2 linked regions of the Homo sapiens genome follow. The protein of the gene in region 2 interacts with the protein of the main gene of each other region in a biochemical or structural test. Each region holds a gene or a part of one and is shown on either strand. Other genes may lie near its edges.

What was found. The genes of interacting proteins can lie anywhere in the genome.
Region 1: the proteins of FGFR2 (region 2) and FGF17 interact in a test that uses a peptide from one of them, tested with the Homo sapiens proteins (one study listed by BioGRID).

The regions. Positions count from the first base shown.
Region 1 is NC_000008.11:22,045,647-22,049,309, reverse strand, and holds the end of FGF17 (fibroblast growth factor 17 isoform 1 precursor), read right to left. Parts: exon of another isoform or gene 3,338-3,663; coding exon of another isoform or gene 3,197-3,337; coding exon 3,019-3,196; intron 2,784-3,018; coding exon 2,677-2,783; intron 1,355-2,676; coding exon 1,061-1,354; 3' UTR 501-1,060; downstream 1-500. UniProt on the Homo sapiens protein: Plays an important role in the regulation of embryonic development and as signaling molecule in the induction and patterning of the embryonic brain. Required for normal brain development.
Region 2 is NC_000010.11:121,480,143-121,483,476, reverse strand, and holds part of FGFR2 (fibroblast growth factor receptor 2 isoform 1 precursor), read left to right. Parts: intron 1-1,299; coding exon of another isoform or gene 1,300-1,305; exon of another isoform or gene 1,306-1,653; intron 1,654-3,334. UniProt on the Homo sapiens protein: Tyrosine-protein kinase that acts as a cell-surface receptor for fibroblast growth factors and plays an essential role in the regulation of cell proliferation, differentiation, migration and apoptosis, and in the regulation of embryonic development.

The DNA.
Region 1 (3,663 bases), on a different chromosome or scaffold from region 2:
GGGACCCGGGAGGACAGGGGACGCCTTCTCGCCCCCTCCCCCCTTCCGGCCGCCCAACCCCGCTTCCCGCCCCCGCCCTCCTCACCGGAAAAAAAGCAATCTCGCTGCCCGAGGAGGCTCCTGGCGTCCGCGGGCCGCCCGGGCTCCGCCGGGCTCCGCAGGGCCCTCGCCTGCGCCTCGGGCCTGGGGCCTGGGGCCCGGGGCCCGGCTGGATGCACGTCCCGGCCCCGGCCCCGGCCCCTCCGGGGGCTCGGGTTTTCTTCCCCAACAGGTAGCACGGGCCGCGCCGCGCGAGCCCAGGAAACCCGAGCCCGCGCCAGGGAGGGGCCGCCCGGCCTGGACGCGCCCGCCTCCCGCGGGGCCGAGCCCGCGGCCTCCTGGGGGCCCCAGCGCTGCGGGCCGCGCCTGCACCTGCCGTGGCCACGCCCGGCCGGGGACGGGCAGGCTCGTTTCCAGGGGTGTTCGGTGGTCGGATCCCCCGCCCCGCTTCAGATAACCCATTTGCAGGAAAATGGTTTTATTCCGGGGCTGGGAGTTGGGGGTGGGGTGCAGGCCTGGGTCGTGGAATGTGAGGAGTGGACAACCCTCTATTTTCCTCTCTCTCCCTTTCTTTTTTCCTGAAACAAACAAACAAACAAAAGTCCCTTCCTACAGTCTAGCCAGGAGGAGTTTGGGGGCTGGGGGCAGACTGAGGGAGATCCGAGAAGCAGATTTTGAGGACAGCCACCTCCAGACGGTTGTCTGCAAGGCCTTCAGTCGCTGACCTTTCAGCGGGCTTCAGGAGCCCGGCTGGGAGGCCGGCAGAGGCTGGTGGCCTGAGATCAGGGTGACACTCAGTTCCTCTCCAGGGCCTGCCACCCGTCCGGGAAGGGGGCACTGTGCCAGCCGCCCCTGGGGCACCGGCCTGCCCCTTCCCAGCTGGGGGCTCGGATGCTTCGCGGCCCTCAGGGTCCTCCCTCGGGGATCTGGCTCCCCTCCCGCCACCCCAGCCCAGTCCTTGGATTAAGAAGGGAAAGGGGTGGGGAGGCGGCCCAGGGGCTGCTGCCCCCTGCCTCCCAGACTACGTGAGGGGCTGGGGCCGCCGTGTGCGCTTGGTCCGGCGGGTGGGGGCGGAGCCCACAAACTCGAACTGCTTCTGCTTCTCGGCGTGGTTGGGGAAGGGCAGCTGGCCTTGGTAGAGGCGCTTGATGAAGTGGGCCTCGCGCTGGTTCTGGCGGCTGCGGGAAGCCTGGCGGGGCCGCCCCTGCCGCGTGAAGGCCATGAACCAGCCCTCGTGCCGGGCGTTCTGGAAGGCCGTATAGTTGTTCTCCAGCACGATCTCCGTGAACACGCAGTCTTTGCTCTTCCCGCTGGGCTGCGGGAGAAGCAAGGACAGGAAGGGCATTTGTCCACCTACCCTGGTCTGGGGTGTCGCCCTTACGGCCTATTTTGGACGACTGAGGAGGGACAACGGGAACAACGGGGCCGTGAGCCCAGGGAACTCTGCCTGGTGAGATGGCATCCTATTTAGAGAGGCAACAGTGGCCAACAAGAACACGCTTTGTGGATCTGAGTTGCAGGCTTGTCGTTTAGCGGTCCTGAACCAGGCTGGGCCTCAGCTTCCTGAGATGTAGGTGAAGATCAAGGACCTGCGGCATTTCCCAGCATGCACGGGCCCTTAGCACTGAAATGCTCATGCAGCCTAGGTGAGGGGTGCTGCTGGGCATGGGAGAGGAGGCAGCAGCCTCCAATGAGAAGAAAGAAGGGTGCCAGTGCAGCCACCCATCCCACTCTGTCTGCAATCAGGGGTCTGTGCCCATTTCTACAGACAAGAAGCCTGAGGCTTGACAAAGATAAGCAAACCAAAGGTTATTTGGTCAGCGACAGCCGAATGGGAAGCTGGGATTGCCTGGTTTCAAACGAAGTGGAATTCTCCCACCCAGCAGGGCCCGGCCTACCGTGTGCTTTGGTCACAGGGGCAGCTGCTTAGTGTCTATCTTGCTAGCTGGAGCCCACTGGCCCCACTGAACTTGGGGGAGTTCCTGTCTTACATCTGTGCCCCACTTTCCACCCTCAACAGCTCTTAGTCCTCCACCCAGAGGCTGCAGTGTCAGGTAGATGCTAAGCTCTTACTGATGCCTGCTGGAGAAATACTCCTGACATCAGCCCCACAGATCCCAGTGGCTTGCCAGTCCCCTCAGAGGGCTAATAGAGTCCCGGGGACTCATTTAAATAGAGAAACCAGGCCGGGCTCCGTGGCTCACGCCTGTAATCCCAGCACTTTGGGAGGCTGAGGTGGGAGGATCGCTTTAGCCCGTGAGTTTGAGACCAGCCAGGGCAACATAGTGAGGCCCTATCTCTACAAAAAAAAAAAAAAAAATTAGCTGGGCATGGTGGCATGCACCTATAGTGCCAGCTACTACTTCAGAGGCTGAGGCGAGAGGATTGCTTGAGCCCAGGAGTACAAAGCTGCAGTGGGCTATGATTGTGCCACTGCACTCCAGCCTAGGTAGCAGAGCAAGACCCGGACTCTAAAATAAAAACCAGAGAGTGGCCCAGTGGGTGGGCTGAGAGTAGGATGGGAAGTCTTTACACAGGAGGGTGTGTGGCTCAGAGGAGAGAGGGGAGCATGATGCCCTATATGTCCCCACCCCAGTAGGGCTGATTCTCTGTTACTTCCCAGTCTCCCAGCCTCACCTTCCCGATGAGCTTGCCCCTCTTGTTCATACAGATGTACTTCTCACTCTCAGCCCCTTTGATGCGAACCCGGCTGCCAAACGTGTCCGTCTCCACTATGAGCTTGGCTGTGGTGGGGGAGGGGAGAAAGACCTCCGTCCATCGGGGCTGCCGGCCTATGGCTACAGCAGGGGACCACCCAGCCACACTGACCTCCAGACTCAGGCGAAGGGGTTGGGGACACTCAGGCCCTTGGGGCCCTCAGCCCTGACACAGGATCTGGGGATGGACCAGGAGGTGAGGCAGGGTGGAAGTGAGGCAGAGTGGAGGTGTGGGTGCCCTGGGGGGAGGGCCAACTCTCACCAAACTTGTTGCCGTCCTCGGCGGTGGCGGAGATGCGACGCCCGGTGACCTGCACGTGCTTGCCACTGGTCCTGCTGTAGAGTTGGTACTCGCGGATCTGCCGCCTGCTCAGCTGGTCGGTCATGGCGCCCTGGTCCCTCACGTACTGGTTAAAATTAGGAGACGGGTGATTCTCCCCCTTTGCGGTTACCAAGGGAAAAATAGTGTCAATTTGCTTTGGGTGACACCACCACTGGTCCATCCAAGGGAGAGGGGTGAGGAGGTGAATATAGTGGGGACAGGCCACTTGTCCTGCAGAGTGAAGTGGGCATATGGCCATAGCCTTCCCAGGCCCCTGGGTGAGCCGGTCATAACCTCTTTGCTTTGCGTCTACCTTACAGAAGGGACTGGGGTCTGCCCAGGCTGGGGGACACTTATTGACAGAGCACAGCCCTGGAATCAGGACTCTGGGAGCTGGAAGGAGCCCTCAGGGTTCTATCCCGTCCTCGTATTCTATGAAGGAGGTGCACGGGGCACACAGCTCATTAGGGACAGAACCCCTGTCCCTACCTCTTAGACCAGAGCCTGTCATCTCCCCCAGAACTCCAAGGACATGCTCCATTAGCCAGGACAACCAGATTCCTTCCTCATCCTCCCCACTGGCCT
Region 2 (3,334 bases):
ACATCCCCGAGGCTGCCTTCAGTGTAGCTGCTGGTGGAGCAGTCCGGGGTATGTGGGAGAGTGGGAAAGGGGAAGCAGTATTCACTTGCATTTTGGTGTGCATGGGAAAAAGCTTGGATTCCTGTGCAAGTTTGATTCTGTGCTTTGGTCATTAGTGGGTAAACTGATAATGTTCGTCATCATTTGCTTGATGGAATACAATGAAGTTTTCTAACACCAGCTTCTGTTACCACAGTACTATCCTATGTGATCCTGTTGGTAATGCTATATGCCTTGCAGCCTCTTTCTAGGTGTATATAAACATACACTGTTTTCTACAATGAGCAACTTACATGATTTTTACATAAAAACATGTACCTTTTGTTAAAATATTTATTTTCCCTAAAATATTTATGCTCTCGCCTGTAATCCCAGCATTTTGGGAAGCCGAGGAGGGCAGATCACCTGAGGCCAGGAGTTCGAGAGCAGCCTGGCCAACATGGCGAAACCCTGTCTCTACTAAAAATACAAAAATTAGTTGGATGTGGTGGTATGTGCCTGTAATCCCAGCTACTTAGGAGGCGAGGTAGGGGAATCGCTTGAACCCAGGAGGTGAAGTTTGCAGTGACTGAGATTGCGCCACTGCACTCCAGTCTGGGAGACAGAGCAAGACTTCATCTCAAAAAGAAAATAATAATAATTTATGATCCTTGCCAACAAAATAAACACTCGTCTGTCACTCACTGTGCAAATTTAGCCATGTCAGTGGCTCCTTCAATATGCAGATAGAGTGCCTTTTATAATTATGGAAAGCATATGCTCTGAGCAGGAAAGATGATAAACCCATCAAGTCTAGTCAAATCTTAAGATAGAGAAATTGTTAATGAATGTATTTTGAGATATTTAATGAGGATGCACAATAGTGTTCTTTTACACAGGAAACTAACTCCAAACCATGCAATTGTCTCAACAAGAAAAAAGTTAAAGTCCCCCAAGTATTTTAGAAGGAAAATAATACACTTAATTTCTGATTTAGGAAATAGTTTTAGAGTGATTTTTTAAAAAGTAATAATCAAATGTAGTGATATGAAGTCTTAGCTCAGCAGCTTTATCTTATGCGTCTGACTGTGGCCTGTGCTGGATAAAGGAAGAGATTGCACTTAAATGAATACAGCTGACCTTCAGAAGTTGAAAGGAAAGGAACGGTTCAAGGGGGGGAAGAAACCAACTTTCTTCTTCTGCCAAAATTGTTGTTTCTAGTATAAGTTCCTTTAACTGTAGACTTGGAATCTACTGATATCCCTGTTTTTTTCCTATCAGATCTGAAAGTTTATGGCTTCATTGAGAAACTGGGAAAAGTTGGTCAGGCGCAGTGGCTCATGCCTGTAATCCCAGCACTTTGGGAGGCCGAGGCAGGCGGATCATGAGGTCAGGAGTTCCAGACCAGCCTGGCCAACATGGTGAAACCCTGTCTCTACTAAAGATACAAAAAATTAGCCGGGCGTGTTGGTGTGCACCTGTAATCCCAGCTACTCCGGGAGGCTGAGGCAGGAGAGTCACTTGAACCGGGGAGGCGGAGGTTGCAGTGAGCCGAGATCATGCCATTGCATTCCAGCCTTGGCGACAGAGCGAGACTCCGTCTCAAAAAAAAAAAAAATAAAAATAAAAAAGAAAGAAACCGGGAAAAGCACTAAAGTTCTATTTTAATGATCTCATGTCTATGCTCAAAGTGATTTATTTATATATTTACATGTAGAGTGGGTCCGTTGATACTGAAATTTGTATCTAGTACCCTAAAATAAAAAAGCAGAATGCCATATTGTCTGGTGGATATAAAAATCGAAGTTTCTTTCCTTCTGAAAATCATTACCATATGCTCAAGAAAAACGGTTCCATTTAGGACAAAATTTCGTTTTTATCATTGTAAGCAAAAAGTTCTCTTTTGATGTGGTGGGCGTGTTTGTTTCCAGTTGTGTGGTTAATGCTGATGTTGTTGGAACTGATACATTCCCCTTCTGGGATGCTGGGATGGGGACTCTTTCTCTTGCCAACCCTGGTGATGAATTAGAGGGTTTTGTGTGTGTGTGTGTGTGTGTGTGTGTGTGTGTCTTTAAAAATGTCTAGTTGCCAACATTCCATGGGCTCTTTTCTGATAACACTGAGGCTGTTTGTGCTGTGGTCTGCACTTTTTGCCCCCTCTCAGCAAAACCACATGTCATAGAATAGTTGTTGGCTTCTGGATGTGTGAGCAGAACTGCCCCACTGTGCCAGCCCAGTGGAGGCAGAGAGACCCACAAGTTCCCAATTTAGAAAGCTTTTCATAGCTTCAGAACAGGGGTCGGCAACTGCTTTCTGTAAAGGGCCAGGGAGTAAATATTTTCAGCTTTGCCGGCCCTGTGGTCTCTGTTGCAACTTCGCCACTGTAGCCTCAAAGTAGCCACAGACAATATGTAAATAGATGTGTTCTAGTCTGTCTTCTAGTAAAATTTTATGGATCCTGAAATTGGAATTTTATATAATTGTATATAAATTTTATTCATTTTAATCCTATAAGATATTCTTCTTCTTTTGATTTTTTTTTTCAACCGCTTACCAATGTTAAAGACCATCTTTAGCCCTCAGGCCATACAAAGTCGTCTGTGGGCACCCAAGTCGGAGGAAGTGTCACCCTGGGGTGATCCAGAGGGCTTTTTGCAGCACCAGCACTGGATGCCTTGGGGAGCAAAGGACACTTTCTGAATCTCGAACCTTCAAAACTTTGAAACTTAACCGATATTTTCCTGAAGTTTCCTTTAACAGTGCATTATGGATTTAACATACATGAGTATGTCTAAGCCTTTTTTGAACCTGTTTACATTTTCAACTCGGAGAGCTTCTGAGAGTAATCAGTTACATCTGTTAAATTACCCACTGAATGAAGAAGTATTCCCCTTCAATTATCCCCGAAACTACAATAGTAAAATGTAATTCAGAAAATAAATATTCATAGTCTCAACTACTTAAAGGGGGTCTGGGGACCCACAACATGTTACCGGTTTTCATTTTGCTGGGGCTCGCATTTGAAGCAAGGGCTCTAGTGAGGAGGTGGTGTAGACTCAGCGGGTTATTTAGGTCCGTGTGAAGCCGAGTTGCCTGCCCAGCACCTATAGCTCAACTAGGTTTTATTGTTCTCTACCTGTCAATAGTTGATTTATGATGGATTCCAAGAGAAAAGCTAAGGACAGCCTGGGGTACATCAGACGTGGTCTCAGGGAGGTCTTCGTGGAAGTCAGGTGGGCTGGGTCTCTGTTCACCTTCTAGGGGTCTCCTGTCCTGTCCCACGTCCAATACCCACATCTCAAGAGTTTGTGTTTGA